Regions from separate parts of the Homo sapiens genome. Here region 2 is linked to region 1. The links come from fine-mapping of genetic effects on gene expression. A gene starts in region 1. The other region holds a variant in brackets. All regions are shown on one strand. Distances are between the middles of the regions.

Region 1 (9,359 bases):
AGTTTGGAGAAACAAATAGATTACAGTAATTGCCCAGAGATATTTAACTAGGAAGCAGTTTACCTGAAACTTGAACCCAAATCTCCTGTGTCTAGCTCTTTCCCCTACTCCAAGGACCAATCTTTGGTCCTTGATTTTAAGCTCTATCAGCAACTCAGTCACAAGTGGACTTGTTATGTTTGGAGAAGGTCAGAGATTCCAATTTTTTATTTTTAAATTCATTCATTTTCTCCTTTTAAAATCTCTGTGTGTGCTCAAAGAGTAGATTGGAAGCAGAGGAACTGGAAGAAGAACAGAATGTTCTGATAGTTCAGGCAATAAGTGATGAAGGCCATAACTAAGGCAGAGGTCATGGGCATAGTGTGAATCTCCACTCTGTTCACTCTCCTCACACATATACTTTTACATGTAATGTTAAAGTGTAGCAGTTATGGGATCGGGCTCTGAATATATGTGGCAATGAGAGAGAAGGAGGAGTCTACAGGGACTAAGTTTCTTTTTGGGGTGACCAAGTAAATGACTGTTGCTGTTCACCAAGATGAACATGATCCGAGGGGTCAGTTTGGCAGGAAAGCTGGGGAATTCTGCTTCGGACATTTTGAATCTGAGCAACAGGTGGGAGATGTTCAGGGGACAGTTGAATAGAGATAACTGAAAGAAGAGGGTTTGGGGCTAGGTTCATAGACTTCAGAGTAGTCAGCATATAGAAGGTGATTGAGGAGGCAGATGGGAAGTAGGAGACAGGGTAAGATTAAAGACTGAAGTCCCAATAAACAGTGAGGGAGTTGGTTAGGCTTGGCAAAAGTGTCAAGTGTTACCAGCTTAGTGGAATTAACCCTGTTCAAGTGACAATATGTAAGGGGTCCTTCTTATCTGCTTTCCTCCATTTGGGGGCACAATTTAGTTGCAATACCGTAACATCCACTAAATACAAATATTGCTCTATGGTAGCTTGGTTGGTTTTCTCCTTTAATTTTTTGAACTTGAGGTTCTATAAAAGTGAACACAGTTTGCTTCACCTGACTTCCCGGACACCATTTCTCCTTCTCATCTCCTTGACTCATCCGTTCTCAATTCTATGACCTCTCAACTTTGAAGGAGCCCATTCTCTAACCTCTTGTCTTCTCTATCTATATTCACTCCACAGGTAGTGTTATCCACTTGCAAAGCGGTAAATACTCTTCGATTCTGACAACTCTCAAGGTTTTCTCTTCAGCTTCTCCTGACCTCCAAACTCGTGTATCTAACTACCTTGACCTCTACTCCTGGTCTTGCCTTCCAAACCTTCTCTCCCACGGTCTCTCCTGTCTCAGTAAATGACACATCCTTGCTTCTAGGTTCTCAGGCCATGAACCTGGGAGTCACCTTAACTCCTGTGTTTGTCTCTTATAGCTCTCATGATATCCATGAGCTTACCTTTGAAATACAAGGTGGCTACCCAGTCTAGATAATAAATGATTTATTGATGCTACATTCTAATACAAGATACAATAACATTATCTATGTTTCTAGACTTTATGATCACCCTGTATATTCAAAATCCAACCACTTCCCACCACTCACATCATCCTGTTTTAAGCCACAACCATCTCTGGTCTGGACTATGAAAGTAGCCTCTTTTTTTTTTTTTTTTTTTTTGAGATGGAGTTTTGCTCTTATTGCCCAGGCTGGAGTGCAATGGCGCAATCTCGGCTCACTGCAACCTCCGCCTCCCGGGTTCAAGCGATTCTTCTGCCTCAGCCTCCCTAGTAGCTGGGATTACAGGCATGCGCCACCATGCCTGGCTAATTTTGTATTTTTAGTAGAAATTGGGTTTCTCCATGTTGATCAGGATGGTCTCAAACTCCCGACCTCAGGTGATCCATCCGCCTCAGTCTCCCAAAGTGCTGGGATTACAGGCATGAGCCAACCATGCCTGGCCAACAGTAGGCTCCTAACTGGTCTCTCTTCTTCTGTTCTTGCTCCCTTGCTATCTAATTTCAGCACAACAGCCAGAGCTACCCTTTTAAAACTTAAAACCCAAGTCAGATCATACTACTCCCCAGTTCAAAATCTTCCATTGGCTTCCATCTCACTCAGAGTAAAATCCAAAGGCCTCGCCATGGCAACAAGGCCCTACATGTTCTGCTCTCTCTCTGATCTCCATCCCAACTCCTCTCCACCTCACTCACAGTGTTAAACATGTCTCCACCTGAAGTCTTTGCACTTGCTAGTCCCTATACCTGCAAAAGCTATTTCCCCAGATGTCCATCCAGGAAGTACTGGCTTCTTCACTTTGTTCTAGACTTTGCTCAAATGTCCTTTGATTTCCCAACGTAAAATCGCAACCCCCATCTCAGCCACACTCCCTGTGGCTCTTGCATCATTTTATTTTTCTCCCTAACAGTAGGACCATCTGATGTACCTTCTGTTTCTCCCTTTACCAGAATGTAAGATCCAGGAGGGCAGAGATTATGTTTTGTTCACTGATAGTTTTCCAGCACCTAGAACAGGACTAACACAGAGTAGGTGTTCAAACTTTATTTATTGAATAAATGAAACGAGAATGTCTGAATGCACACTATTAAATAAGAAGTACATATTTTACCATAAAGTTAAATTGAGCATAATTATGGCAAGAAGTTCAGATATTGGCCAGGCGCAGTGGCTCATGCCTGTAATCCCAGCACTTTGGGGGGCCAAGGTGGGCAGATCACCTGAGGTCAGGAGTTCGAGACCAGCCTGACCAACATGGCGAAACCTCAGCTGTCCTAAAAATATACAAATTAGCTGGGTGTGGTGGCAGGTGCCTGCAATCCCAGCTACTCGGGAGGCTGAGGCAGGAGAATCATTTGAACTTAGGAGGTGGAGGTTGCAGTGAGCCAAGATTGCGTCACTGTACTCTAGCCTGGGCAACCGAGCGAGACTCAGTCTCCAAAAAACAAAATAAAACAAAAAACAAAACAAAACAGAAGTTCAGATATAAACAAATGACCCCTCAAAAGGAATTGATTAAAAAAATTTTAAACAAAGTATGGTTTAAAAAAGAAACTTCTCCACTGTGGCTAAGTCCATATTTCACATGTTACTGTATCCTCCTCATCTTGCTGCTATTTTTCTGAGTATCTCATGATAGTGAGTACTGAAATGCTGGCATTCTCACATTAGGGTCTTTATTCTTAGGATCTGCCTTTGCACTCGTTCAGTTACAGAGCTGTTATGAAATAAACCACTCAAGTGGCCTTGCTTCCCTCCCACTATGCTCTACATAACATGTCTGTCAATCAGTACTTACTACCAAAATAACTTGCCTTTGAGATTTTTCTGTTCTGCAATCTGTCCCATGCTTGTAAGGGGAAGGATTATATTCTGCTCCCTGGGGAGTAGTGCCTGGTGCAAAATTAGCTTCCTCATTAGGGTACAAGCTGAAAACACCATGATACTTTCCATGTAACACCATTCAACATTTTCCCTTCGCTCCCACTCCCCAACCATAGAATTTTAGGGACTCCTTTAACCATTTCAAAACCATCGACTTGGGAGCTATCAAAGAATAAGGACTGTAGCCAGAGGATTTCAGCATTTAAAAACTTGGCAATAGAGCTGTTCAGTGTAATGATCCAAGAAGGTCCTTAGAAGGCTGAATAATTCTGAGGTCAAGGTTGAGACGTTATTATTTTTAAAGTAGCAAGATGTTGTTATTTTTAAATTTTATCTTTATAATGTGGAAATAGCAGAGATCCTTTTCAGATATAACCAGGATTTAAGAAAATTTGACAAAGTTGCATTAATAAAAAGAAAGCCTGTTATTAAGGAGCTACAGGGCCGGGTGCGGTGGCTCATGCCTGTAATCCCAGCACTTTGGGAGGTTGAGGCGGGCGGATCATCTGAGTTCAGGAGTTCAAGACCAGCCTGGCCGACATGGTGAAACCCCATCTCTACTAAAAATACAAAAAAAATTAGCCAGGCATGGTGGCAGGTACCTGTAATCCCAGCTACTTGGGAGGCTGAAGCAAGAGAATCACTTGTACTCGGGAGACGGAGGTTGCAGTGAGCCAAGATCATGCCATTGCACTCCAGCCTGGGCAAGAAGAGTGAAACTCCGTCTCAAAAAAAAAAAGGAGTTATGGATAGAAAATTACTTCCTTTAACTCATTCGACAAATATTTACTGAGCATTTTCTGTCACCTTGACACTTTGCTGATTCTTCTTTTCTATTTCAATAAAAATGTTGGGCAATTATAACCAAGGAAAAGGTTTTAAGAAAGTAAATTTTAAGCAAGGTTTAGATATAAAGAAGCAAAGAGATGGAAAAGGATGCCGTTTCACATTGCAGAAAAAGTTTAAATTTTAGAACCCCAAATTGAATCTCTCCTTGACACTCTCCTCTTGGTATTCCAGGGATTAATGCTAGGAACATCCCAGTGAGCCAACATTTCCCTCCTCATCTTGGATCCAGTCCCCAAACTCTGAATGGTGCCACTTAGCAAGTAGCAATGTCTCTAATTTTCTGTAAAAGATGCAACGTTGGCAATCCATTTTCTAGCAAGAGCAAAGAGAAAGGAAGAGGCCTTCACAAGTTGCAGTTGATATAGGGGGAAGGGTGAGTGGTACATTTAAAGGTAAGAACTAAGGAAGTTGAAGGTAACAAAACTCAAGGTCAATGGAAAGTCTTAAATCCCAGAAAGCCTTCAGTCTAAGACTCAACAGAAATTGAAGTCCCAGAAATTGAAGGAACTGGTTCCACCTCATGCTGGACTGTGGCAAACCTGGGGTGAGAATGCATCCCAGCTCAGAATGTTTCTTCTTTTTTTGTCAAGAGTAATATTAGAGGCTGAGTGTATGAACAAAGCATCTTTCCTGGGATTTTAACATTGTGAGTGATCGAGGGTGCTCTTAAATAAGTTCCCCCAAGAAGCCCTAATGTTCCTCTGGATGCATGATTATACTAAGAGAATAAGAGTTTTCCTTAAGATCAGCTTGCTGATGGACCATATCAAGAACTATAAATTTTCTTATGTGAACACAAGTGTTCAGGGGGGATATTGTTAAAACTGAAACCAAGCATAAAGAAGCAAAAGTGTTTCAGTGAACCTCCTGCATTTTAGTTCAACTCTGGCAGCAAGAAAACAAAACCACATAATCTAAGGCTCACGCCCAACTCTCCGAAGCCCCATATGTGCTAGTTCCTGTGTGGTTTGCCTACAGACTGCAGGGCTGACTAGGGTTAGTTTGGAGGAGGGAGTAAGAGGTGGGGAGGAGGAGGCACAGTTAATGGATCTGTAAACTTGCACCCTCTTTCAGAGTGGTACATGGAAGACAGCACAAAGTGGATCCATACTCTGAAATGCAGTAACTCTGATGCTTGAATTTGTCTCCCTTCTTGCCAGAAAGGATTCTAATAACTCGGTGTCAAAGCCAAGACATAAACTCAACCCCTTCTCTTCCAAAAGGTATGTCATTATACAACATCTGTACATATACTCTAGAAACTTTGAACAGTTTTATAATTTGCAGAATGTTCTGTATGAGTTAATTAAAATGAATCTCACTAGTTCTCTAAATATTGCTTTTAAGTCCCATCAGCTAAGGTCTCTAAACCTTTTGCTGTGACAATGTTTGTGGTGATGGGATTTGACTTCTATCAAATGAACTGGGAGAACACTTGTTCCTTACCCAGTCCATAACACAAAAATCTCCACAAACTGGCTTCAGAAGCATCTCAGGGAAAGATTTTCGACCTTGGGATCATGGAGGTAAAATTCCACTTCACCATGGTCAGAATTTAATCCAAATTGGAAGGGATTGGAGGGGGTGGTAGAGGGCTGAGCAGTGATGAATGAACACTAGCACTCTGAGGTCAGGATTTCTCTCTTTGCTTGAATTTCTAGTTCTGTTCGCATTTTTGTTACCTGTACAAAGGACACCAGTTTTCATTCCTTTACGAAAAGAAAACTTTATGTTGAAGTGTATTTTGGAAGGGTATTGTCTCTCTTCGTACTAGCCGTTAGGCTCCATCCCTATGACTGTCTCTGGTTTAGGCGTCCAGTCTGAAGATAGCTGCTTTGTGTTCTTTGTCCCAACTCTTCCTGAACGTGAGGATTGAACATACCAACCAAAGGTTTCACTAATTTAAAATGTACTGTATTGCCCTGACAGGTATACTGTCAAAAAAAATTTACCGTATTTATCTACCTGGAATTAGGCCTTCTTAATAAAGTGTATGCAGCATAATTTGCACACTATTGAACATACACATCCCTAGATAAACTAGGAGTGGGAAGTGTTTTAGATCTAAACATCCAATGGGAAAAATTTCGTGTGTTCTCGTTATGTTATCTGAGGATGGGAAACTTCAGGTCGCAGAATCTTTTGTTCTATGCAGCAATGTTTGTCATAAACGGTTTAGTTCTTTAGTGGCTCCTTTTTGTTTCTTATTTTTGGTTTCGGAAAGAGTATTTAGCAGAAGTTACTCTCCTTTAACAATCCAGTATTTTATGTAAAACTTTATAGAATAATTTTATAGTGATTCTCTTTACAAAACCATCTGCTATTAAATAAGGAACACTGTGTAAATAGAGGACCACCTAAGTATATTTAATTTTCAAATACGAAAAAAATCTGACTCATACCCTTTTTTGTTTTTTTGTAAAAGAGAGGTGGCCCTATATTATTGAATAAAACTGCTTTTTTAGATTGAACTTGGAGTGTCTCCCATGTGGTAAACTGAAATCTTATTCTCCCCAAATTGTAATAGATTTTATCTTTTTAAAAATGACTTTACTGAAGCAGAGGAGAAGGAGATGATCAATCTATTCAATATGAAGAAATATCTCTGTTGCTAATACAATATCCTTTTGAATATCTCCCACATCTTAGGCCCTGGTGAAAATCCCTTTCAATTGTTCTGTCTACCTCGTAGGGATGTTGTAAGAATAAATGAGTTAACATAGATATGAAGTGCCTTAGGAAAAAGGCTCTATAAAAATGCAAGGCGATATCATGATTAGTTGTTTCTTTGACTCTTGATCATTTTCTTCCCACTTCTTATACAAAATGTCTCTCACTTATTTCCTGAAGCCATCTCTTTTAGAACTATTGCTTCCTAGAAGAGCTGAAAATGATCCTAGTTCCAACATATTTATTGATTCCCAGATAATAACACCCACTGGTGTTGATGACTGACAGGGTTCATGCCTAAGCTTGAGTAGAACTTGCCCTTTTTTCCTGGGTCAAGAAAAGTCTGCAATTGTTCGAAAATGTGTCAGTAAGTGTGATTCCATCACGATTTCTTAAATAAGTAACAGTTGCTGCTGGATAATCCTGGGGGCAGATGATTCATTTTTGTGCCCCTATCAAACAAACTCAAAACTTGTTAAAGAATCTTTATAAGTTGTTTGAATCAAACAATAGGGTCGCTAGGTCCCCATTTTGTCCATTTGAGGTATTTGCCCAGCATACCTTGGTCTGTAAAGAAATAGCACAGCCTTGGCTGGGCGCGGTGGCTCATGCTTATAATCCTAGCACTTTGGGAGGCCGAGGTGGGCAGATCTCCAAAAATAAATAATAATAATGATAATAACACAGCCTCATGAGTCTTTTTTTTTTTTTTTTTTTTGAGACAGGGTCTCACTCTGTCACTCAGGCTGGAGTACAGTGGCACAATCACAGCTCACTGCAGCCTCAACTACCCTGGGTTTAGTGATCCTCCCACCTCAGCCTCTCAAGTAGCTGAGACTACAGGTACACACCACCACACCTGGCTAATATTGTATTTTTAGTAGAGACAGGGTTTTGCCATGTTTCCCAGGCTGGTCTTGAACTCCTGAACTCAAGCGATTCGCCTGCCTCAGCCTCCCAAAGTGTTGGGATTACAGGTGTGAACCACTACACCTGGCCTGCCCTTTCTTTTCTCTTAAAAATTCTTAAGAAAGCATGGTCCTGTTTAACAAATAAGCATTTTACAAACATTTATCGATCAATTACTATATGCCAGGCCTGGCACTAGGCACCAAGTCCTCTTCAACAGTGTTAACATTAAGTTTCAATAAACTTGAGTCAGTAGGAATTCAGTAAATAATTTTTAAAGATTGTTTTCTTTTTAAATATGTATTTATAAACAAAAATTTTAGAGAATTAAAAGAAACTATCACGAAGTGCATGATGATAAAAGTCTTATATACTCTCCAAAGAAAATGTTAAGACATACCTTAAGGAGATAGTGAAGAACAGCCGGGCACAGTGGCTCACACCTGTAATCCCAGCACTTGGGCGGCCAAAGCAGGCAGATCATCTGAGGTCAGGAGTTGGAGACAAGCCTGGCCAACATGTTGAAACCCTGTCTCTACCAAAATACAAAAATTAGCCGGGCATGATGGCAGGCGCCTGTAATCCCAGCTACTTGGGAGACTGAGGCACGAGAATTGCTTGAACCCGGGAGGCAGATGTTTCAGCGAGCTGAGATCGTGCCACTGCACTCCAGCCTGGTCGACAGAGCAAGATCCTGTCTCAAAAAGAGGAAAAAAGAAAAGAAAAGAAAAGATAGTGAGAAAATAACTGAACATAAAACATAAAGAAAAGTTGAAATATTAGTACTCACTACCTAGGTTCAACAATTGCTAACTCTTTGCCGTATTTGCTCCATCTATACCTATTTCTTTCTGAATTACTTGTAAGTTGCAGATAAAATAATACTTCACTCCTAAATAATTCAGTACTCATCTAAGAATAAAGGCATTCCTCTATCTAACCACAATTCCATCATTAGGCCTAAGAGGATAAACAGTAAGTCCTTAATATCATCTGATAGCTAGTGCAGATTTAACCTTCCCCATTTGTCCCCCAAATGTCTTCTATACCATTTTTTAAAAAAAGAATCTAATTTTTAAAAATAAGAACATATTTTGCAGTTGGGTCTCATGCTTCTTTCTTCAACATTGGATGTTTTTAAAGATTACGCCAGTTCTCTTGTACCAGGTCCCACTTTCTGAATTCGTTGTTGCCTCATGGTTAATTTGTTCCTCTACCCACTTTATTTCTCATAAGCTCCAAGTTAGGACTAAAAGCATGATTTGATTTTGATTGAACGTTTTTTGCAAGGTGCCACTGGGTGCTCCATATTGCATCTTATCAGGAGGTACAGAATGCCAGGTTGTTCCACTGTGCATGATGCCAAGTTTGATCAGGGCTTGAGGTAGTGATCTTGCTCAGAGGATCTCTTGTTGTACAGGCACTTTTTCACCCTTTGCAATTAGCGAGTACTCTCAGGGGGTATCTCAAAGTGTATCTCATAAACACTTTGGCATGGTGGCAATATCCTATTTCCCAACAAACTCTCACCCGGTGACTTTAGGTAATAATCTTTGCCTAAATTGATTATT
Region 2 (9,359 bases), 79 kb after region 1:
TCCTAATAGTAATTATTTTAAACATCAGCAGAGATTGCAGAAGTTGTAAAAGCTTTGTCAGGAAATCTTCAGTCATAAAATTGACTCTGGTCAGATGTGGCCCTGGTTGAGGCAGGGGACTGTGCTCCCAGCTAACCTAAAACACAACAGCCCACACTCGGGACAGATTAGCATGGCCAAAATATTTACTGTTTGCCTTGTCTAAGCCAACATTTTAGCCCCTCTATACCAAGGCAAGTGTGTGAGAAAAACCTTGATTGTCTCAATGCTTTTTAAAAAATGCCTCCTCAGTTCCTCCACTTTACTCCATCACCTTGGCCATGCCACCATCATCTCTTCCTTTGGCAACTGTCAGCTTTCATACCTTTCTCCCTGCATTCTCTCCCGTAATCTGGTCCTCCACACAGATGCCAAAGCGATCTTTGTAAAAATAAATCCGATCACATCACTCCCCTTCCCACTGGATTTAGGCTTAAGTCCAAAGTCCTAATGTGGCCCTGTGAAGTCCGGCCCCTGCCTCCCTCCTCAGCCTCCTCTTCTGCCTCCCCTGCCCCTTGCTTTTATGCTCCTGCCCCACTGGCCTTTCAGCCTCCAAATGGCCAAGGATTTGTCCCCAAACCTTTCACACTTGCCATTCTTGCTACCTGGAGGCACATCCCCTGCTAACCCTGCTAACTCTTGTTCATCTCCAGGTCTGGGTTGGTTTTTTGTTTTCTGTTTTTTGTTTTTTGTTTTTGTTTTTGTTTTTGTTTTTGTTTTTGTTTTGAGATGGGGTCTGGCTCTGTTGCCCAGGCTGGAGTGCAGTGGCACAGTCTCAGCTCACTGCAGCCTCTGCCTCCCAAGTTCAAGTGATTCTCCCACCTCAGCCTCCCGAGTAGCTGGGATTACAGGGTCATGTCACCACACCTGGCTAATTTTTGCATTTTTGGTAGAGACAGGGTTTCACCATGTTGGCCAGGGTGGTCTTGAACTCCTGACCTCAGGTGATCCACTCACCCTGGCTTCCCAAAGTGATGGGAATATAGGTGTGAGCCACCATGCCTGGCCCAGGTCTGGGTTTAAATGTCACTTCCAAACAGTCCTCCCCTGCCCTCTAATCTAAAATAATCCTTCCCCTAAGATGGTCTTATGAATCCTGTGCTTTTCCTGAATAGCACGTACACAGATGATGGTGCCAGACTGAGCTGTATGGCTATTACAGCTCACTGCAGCCTCTGCCTCCCAAGTTCAAGTGAACTTGGAGCTGTAAGCTCCACGGAGCAGGGGTCACCTCTGTTTTGTAAACCATTGTACACCCAGCATCTAGCACTATGCAAGGCACACAGAGGCTCAGTAAATATTTTTCTAATGAAGGAATGATTGGACCTGCTTCATCTCATCTATTTACTCATTTTGTAACTCAACTGTCTTGGGCCTAACAGACCTGTAGATGCAAACAAGGTCATATTTACAATGATGTCCAGGTTCCAGTAGCTTTAGCCACTGTCTTCGGATTCTCCTCCAGTTAACTTCTGAGAGGCCAAGAGAGGGAGGCTGTTATCTCTCACGTGTTTAGGCACCAGTATACTCACGCTTCCTACTCTGGTTCCAGTGTTCTGTTGCCCCACGCATCCTCTGCTGACAATGCCTTCCCAGATGCTGCGGATCCACTATGCACCACATTTATCTGCTGGTGAATTGACCCAATCCTTCAGGACACCAAATCTGCCCTGCAGTCCACATGACAAGGAGATTGGGGAAGAGGTAGAGGGGAGAATGGCCAGCCTGTGCCCAATTCTGAGAGGCACTGCTTGGACCCTGGCTCCCTCAGCATCTTCCATGAGCACAGCTGGCTCTCTTCTCAGCCGAGCCCTCCCTCCATCAGACAGAACAAGGGATACCAACCCTTCCCTCCGTCTCTCTCTTCTCACTCTTCCCTGTTGCCTCTTTCTCCTTGAGCTCAAAAGAAGGGGAATGTACCTACATGCCATCGTTAGCTCACAGCTAACCTGAAACACAACAGCCCACACTGGGGACTGATTAGCATGGTCAAAATATTTGCTGTTTTCTCAGTCTAAAGTCAACACTTCAGCCTGTCCATACCAAGGCAAGGGTGTCCTCTGCACCACACCATTTGTGCAGTAGATACTACCTAGAAGCCTAGTAGCTGTGCACTCACTTCTATTGTTTTAAGTTTTGCTGTAATTCATTCATTAAGTCAACAAATATTTACAAAGCACCTCTTCAGGGTCAGACACAATCAGCCATCGGGTCCTTCACATTCTCTCAACTCTGTCCCTTCTCTGCACCCATTCCACAGCCACTGCCTTACTTCAAACCTCTCTCACTTCTTTCCCTGATGACTGCAATAGTCTCAGCACTCGTCTCCCTGCCTTTCTGGCTGGCCCCCTGTAATACAGCCTCCAACGCAGTCAGGGAGATCTTATTCGCAGACAGGCTGATGATACCAAGCTCCTGCTCAAATCTTTGGGTTCTCCATAGTCTTCAGGCTGGAGTTTAACCTCCTTAGCTTCGCACTAAAGGCCTTTTGTGATCTGCCTGCTGCCTTGTTCGTTCAGCCACATCTTCTACCTCTCCAGTCCCAAACACTCTTTACTTCAGTCCCTTAGAACTATCTGTGGTTCCCAGAATGAGGCATGTTTTCTAAGACCTCTGGTCTCCTACATTCTGTTCTTTTTGCCTGGAATGCTTTCTCCCACTGTTTTGTCTAGACAAGGGCTGTCTATTAGGACTTTCTGTGATGAGGGAAAAGCTCTGTATCTGCTCCATCCAATGTGGTAGCCACTAGCCACTAGCCACATGTGGCTATTGAATACTTGAAATATGCCTGGTATAAATGACTGAAATTGCCACATGTGGCAAAGAGCTGCCTTATAGGGCAGCGTGGGTCCAGACAACTGTTACTTACTTTGAAATCATTAGCTCAGGGCTCCAGGTCTCCACTGGGAAACCATCCCAATATTATGGTTGATGTAAGTGCCCCCGTTCCCCCACCCCCACTTATGTTCCTGTAGTAACCTTGTTCTCCCTCTATCCCAATACTCAGAACACCATTGTCAGTGATTCACTGATCTGCCTCCTCTGCTAGACCAAATCTTTTTTAGGTCAAAGATATGCAGTGCAGTCAATAAATGGTTGATGCCTAGATGCAGTGACGTGCTGGTAAAGATTTAATAATTGGCTCTCTCTAAGAAGAAGCCCTAACTTGTGGTATTTGCCAATTCTATGGTGTAAACACTCCCACCATATGCCAAGAGAATGAGAAGACAAGTCACAGACCAGGAGAAAATATGTACAGAAGACATATCTGATAAAGGACTATGATACACAAAGAACTCTTAAAACTCAACAATAGGCAGGGCACAGTGGCTCACGCCTGTAATCCCAGCACTTTGGGAGGCCGAGGCAGGTGGATCATGAGGTCAGGAGTTTGAGACCAGCCTGGCCAAGATGGTGAAATCCCGTCTCTACTAAAAATACAAAAATTAGCCGGGTTTGGTGGCGGGCACCTGTAATCCCAGCTACTTGGGAGGCTGATGCAGGAAAATTGTTTGAACCCGGGAGGTGGAGGTTGCAGTGAGCCAAGTTCCTGCCACTTCGCTCTAGCCTGGGCAACAGAGCAAGACTCCATCTCAAAAAAAGAAAGAAAGAAAGAAAGAAAGTAAGAAACAAAAAAAACCAACAACAACAACAAAAAAACTCCACAATTAGAAGATGAACAACCCAATTTAAAAATGGGCAAAAGACATGGACAGCTCATGGAAGAAGATATAGATGGCAAGTGAGGAGATAAAAAGATGCTCAATATCATATGTCATTAGGAAAATACAAATTAAAACAATGAAATATCACCACACACCTATAAGAATGCCCCATATCTATAATACTGACAACACCATATGCTGGTGATGATGTGAAACAACAGGAACTCTCATTCATTGATGGTGGGAAGGCAAAATGGTACAGCTACTTTGGAAGAGAGTTCGACGGTTTCTTGCAAAACTAAACTTACGCTGGTCATAGGATCCAGCATTCACACTCCTTGGTATTTACTGAAAGGTGCTGAAAACATCCACACAAAGACCTGGACATGGATATTTATAGTGGCTTTATTCATAATTGCCAAAACTTAGAAGAAACCAAAATGTCCTACAATAGGTGAATGAATAAATAAACTGTGGTACCTCCAGACAATAGAATAGTATTTAGAAAGAAATAAGCTACCAAGCTATGAAAGATGAAAACCCTTAAATGCATATTATTATTATTATTATTATTATTATTATTATTATTAAGATGGAGTTTCACTCTGTCACCCAGGCTGGAGTGCAGTGGTGTAATCTCAGCTCACTGCAACCTCCACCTCCCTGGTTCAAGCAAATCTCCTGCCTCTGCCTCCCAAGTAGCTGGGATTACAGGCGCCCGTCACCACGCTTGGCTGAATTTTTTTTTTTTTTTTAGTAGAGACGGGGTTTCACCATGTTGGCCAGACTGGTTTTGAACTCCTGACCTAAGGTGATCTGCCCACCTCAGCCTCCCAAAGTGATGGTATTACAGGCATGCGATGCTGCACCCAACCCTTAAATGCATATTACTATGTGAAATAAGCCAATATGAAAAGGCTACACACTGTACCGTTTCAACTACATGGCATGCTGGAAAAGGAAAAACTAGAGAGGCGGTAAAAAGATCAGTGGTTGGAAGGGTTGAGGGTGGGAGGCATGAATACGCAGAGCCCGGAGGATTTTTAGGGCAGTGAAACTCCTCTGTGTGATGCCACAACAATAGACACATGGCATGACACATTTTTCAAAACCCATAGGATGCACAACAGGAAGAGTGAACCCTAATGTAAACTACGCATTTCGGGTGATTATGGTGTGTCAATGTAGGCTCAACAATTGTAACAAATATATCACTCTGCTGGAGGATGTTGACAGTGAGGGAGGCTATGCGTGTGTGGGGACAGGGGGTATTTGGGAACTCCCTGTGTCTTCTGTTCCATTTTGCTGTGATCCTAAAACTGCTGAAAAAAAAAAGTCTACTTAAAAAAGAACAACTCCCACCATGGCAGATTTCAGGCTACCAACATGACATCACTGAATCCAGAGTTGGGAAGAGATGTACACAATTGTTTTTCATGGGCAGATAGGAGCCAGCCCCAGCACACCACCGCATGAGTGAGTGAGTGAATGAGTGAATGAATGAATGAATGAATGAATGAATGAAAGAAATGTGCCAGATGCTGGGAATACCAGGGACGCCATCAGGCTCTTTAGGGAGAAGTCT[A/G]TTCAGACCTGCGAGAGCTGGGCATGCAGCTGCTAGTCGGATTTCAATTCCAACTGAGGAGATAAAGGATCAGGGAGTCCCATCTTTGATTTAGTCAGTAAATCGAAGATATGGGACATTTGTTTTCTTTGGGTGCTTTACCTTTAATACCAAGACTTGTCAAGGCATCTCTATTAAGTGGCCCACTCAGACAAGTGCAAAGTGAGTGAGCTGGAGGCGAAAAAAACAGAGGCCTGACCAAAAGGCTCTAGAGCAACAAGAGGCTCATGATTTCCCATCACAAGAAGTCCAGAGACAAGACAGCCATTGGCTGGCTTAACACAATGGCCCAACAATGCATCAGTGATGTCTCTGAGCATCAGTGGTGTCTCTTCTCAGTGGCTTACAGCTCCAGACATCACATGCAGACGTGACAATGTCTAATGGAGAAGGGGCACATTCTCTCCCAATTCTACTCAATGAGAAACCCTTTCCTTCCTGGAGGTCCTTCAGCGGCCATTCACACAGATCCCACTGGCAAGACTGGATCCCATGCTGTTCTTACACCAGCCATTTCCAAGAGAATGAGGCCACCATAACTGGCTTAGGCCAATTGGTAGGACCCTTCAGGAGGCAGAACCTGGGAACCTAGGCAGGGCTCTGCCCACAGGAAGAAGCAGGTGAGCGTGTGGGGGTGGCGGATGGTTGTCAAAACCCAATATACAGGGAACATTACAGGAAGAGTCACTTACTTTACAATCATGTCATTTCATAAACATTTCTTGACATAATTAGGGAACAAGAGGCAGCATGAAGGAGCACAGCTTCCCTGCCATTCCCCCCGCCACAGTGAGACGCCTGCAAGGACACAGACACAGCCTTTCCATCAGCCTTCCTCTGTGGATCCCCCATCCACACTGAGCCAGCAGGTCAATGGGGACAGGTTCCATGCTGTTCAGAGAAACCAGCACTGTACACAGTGGGGCCCTGCATCCACTGCAGGGGTGGACGCCTCAGCCAGCCCAGGACTGTGCCGTCATCCCTGAGACTCACTGATCCTGATGTGAGACTCTCCCCGACAGGGGCTTCCAGGCATGGCTCTATGCAGGGTCATTTGTGGCCACACTATGACGTGGGCGATCCCATTTCTACACATCTAAATTCCCCAGGGCAGGCAGCATGTGGTATCTCACTCCCTCGGCTCTAACCTGGTTATGGGAAGTTGCTAGGTAACTGCTTCCCACACTGGAGGAGGCTTAGTTACCATGGAAAGTCCAGATGGGTGGGGGGGCACAGAGGAAGGGAGCACTGGCTGGGGGGTCTGCAGCTGGGATTCTGTCCCCACTCTCTCCTGAGCCCCTGGACCTAAGGGGAGTCTCTCAACCCCTCTGGGCCTCAGTTTCCTCCTAGTAAAATGAAGGAAAGGCTGGGTCACTTCTTGCTCTAAACCACTGATGCATGTGGATGGCATACCCTCAGTGAGCACTGATCCTCAGACACCTCTTCGGCAAGGAGTGACTCAAGATGGGTGCAGAAAAGGAATGCATTAAGTTTATGTCTTAGCCTGGGCAACATAGCAAGACTCTGTCTCTACAAAAAACATTTTTTTTTTTTTTGAGACAGAGTTTCACTCTGTCACCGAGGCTGGAGTACAGTGACGTGATCTCCACTCGCTGCAACCTCCGCCTCCCGGGTTCAAGCGATTCTCATGCCTCAGCCTCCCTAGTAGCTGGGATTACAAGCATGTGCCACCACACCCAGCTAATTTTTGTATTTTTAGTAGAGACAGGTTTCACCATGTTGGCCAGGCTGGTCTCGAACTCCTGACCTCAAGTGATCTGCCTGCCTCAGCCTCCCAAAGTCCTGAGATTACAGGCATGAGCCACAGCGCCCGGCCCTCAATTTTTTTTTTTTAAATTAGCTAGGTGTGGTACATACAGGCACCTGCCTGTAGTCCCAGCTACTCCAGACGCAGAGGTAGTAGGATCACTCGAGCTCAGGAGTTTGAGACTGCAGTGAGCTATGATTGTGCCACCACACTCAGCCTGAGTGACAGAGCAAGACCCTATCTTAAAAAACAAAAACAAAACAAAACAAAACAAAAGGCCAGGCGTGGTGGCTCATGCCTGTAATCCCAGCACTTTGGGAGGCTGAGGCAGGCAGATCATGAGGTCAGGAATTTGAGACCAGCCTGACCAACACGGTGAAACCCCATCTCTACTAAAAATACAAAAATTAGCTGGGCGTGGTGGCACACGCCTGTAATCCCAACTACTCAGGAGGCTGAGGCAGGAGAATCCCTTGAACCTGGGAGGCAGAGGTTGCAGTGAACCGAGATTGCACCACTGCACTCCAGCCTGGGCGACAGACCGAGACTCTGTCTAAAAAAACAAAAACAAAAAAGTTTTTTCTTTAAAAAAATAGAGAAACTAGCAAGCTTGTGTCTCTATTAGGATAAATAAAAGCTATAGGCCAGGCGCAGTGGCTCACACCTGTAATCCCAGCACTTTGGGAGGCCGAGGCGGGTAGATCCCCTGAGGTCAGGAGTTCAAGACCAGCTTGGCCAACATGGTGAAGTCCCGTCTCTACTAAAAATGCAAAAATTGGCTGGGCATGGTGGCTCATGCCTATAATCCCAGCACTTTGGGAGGCTGAGGTAGGTGGATCACCTGAGGTCAGGAGTTTGAGACCAGCCTGGCCAACATGATGAAACCCGTCTCTACTAAAAATGTGAAAATTAGCTGGGCATGGTGGCGGGCGCCTGTAATCCCAGCTACTTGGAAGGCTGAGGCAGGAGAATCACTTGAATCCAGGAGATGGAGGTTGCAGTGAGCTGAGATCACACCATTGCACTCCAGCCTGGTCAACGAGAGTGAAACTTCATCCCAAAACAAAACAAAACAAAGCAAAAATTAGCCGGGCATGGTGGTGGGCCCCTGTAATCCCAGCTACCCTGGAGGCTGAGGTGGGAGAATTGCTTGAACCTGGGAGGTGGAGGCTGCAAGGAGTCGAGATGGCGCCACTGCACTCCAGCCTGGGCGACAGAGCAAGACCCTGTCTAAAAAAAAAAAAAAAAAAAAAAAAAAAAAAAAAAAAAAAAAAAAAAAAATTGGCCGGGCGCAGTGGCTCACACCTGTAATCCCAGTACTTTGGGAGGTCAAGGCAGGCGGATCACCTAAAGTCAGGAGTTCAAGACCAGCCTGACCAAGATGGTGAAACCCTGTCTCTACTAAAAATACAAAAATTAGCCAGGCATGGTGGGGGGCACCTGTAATCCCAACTACTTGGGAGGCTGAGACAGGAGAATTGCTTGAACCTGGGAGGTGGAGATTGCAGTGAGCCGAGATCGTGCCACTGCACTCCAGCCTGGGCAACAGAGCAAGATTGCACCTCAAAAAAAAAAAAAAAGTTATAGAGATTCTCCCTTCTGCTAGGAGAAATTTCACTTCTGACATCAATATTCACAAGTCCTGGGGCTCCCTAGGTCCTCTTCTGAACCGAGGCTTCCTAAAAAAAAAACTTAGGATGCAATGTGTGTCCCTAAAACACCCAGCTTGCTAAAGCATGATGTCCTTTCAGACAGGGTCTCCCAGTTCTTGGGCTCTGCTGGTCCTTCTGCCCCAGATGGAGCCATGGCACAGGCCCAGCCCTCTCTAGGTTGCTGGGACCCATCCTGACTCCTCCAATATGGGCCACTGCATAAGCCTCTTGGGTCTGCTATTTGTTCCTTCTTTCATTCTGAGATCCAGCCCCACCTTCTTCCCTTGCTTCTGCAATAAGATCTCTGCCCAGGCCCAGATGCTGGGACCAGTGCAGTACCCAGCTCCCCGTTCACCTGCCTTGTTCATGCCAATCCCATTCCCAGAATCCATATGACATTTCCAAGCACTAGCTGCCATCCTCCTGTCTACACGCCCGAATCTCCATGATGCAGTGGTGGCTCCCTCTCCCACCATGCATGTCACCCACTCAGCACTCTGATGACCTTGTGCCGGAGCCCCTGCTCCTGCTGGCTGCACAACACCCCCACCACCATCTGTACCCACAGTCACAGGAGGCCCCTGTAATCCCCGAAGACAGGTTGGACCCCA

Evidence for each region.
Region 2: its variant is fine-mapped to the expression of GRAP2 in whole blood (INTERVAL, PIP above 0.99).

What each region holds. Positions count from the first base shown.
Region 1 is chr22:39,895,899-39,905,257 of GRCh38, forward strand. It overlaps GRAP2 (GRB2 related adaptor protein 2), which reads left to right and starts at 5,186. Exons shown (of 8, transcript NM_004810.4): 1 at 5,186-5,432.
Region 2 is chr22:39,974,410-39,983,768 of GRCh38, forward strand. No RefSeq gene overlaps it. Among named protein-coding and RNA genes, the nearest start is that of FAM83F, 16 kb to the right of the region's middle. The variant A/G (reference allele first, on the strand shown) is at 5,290.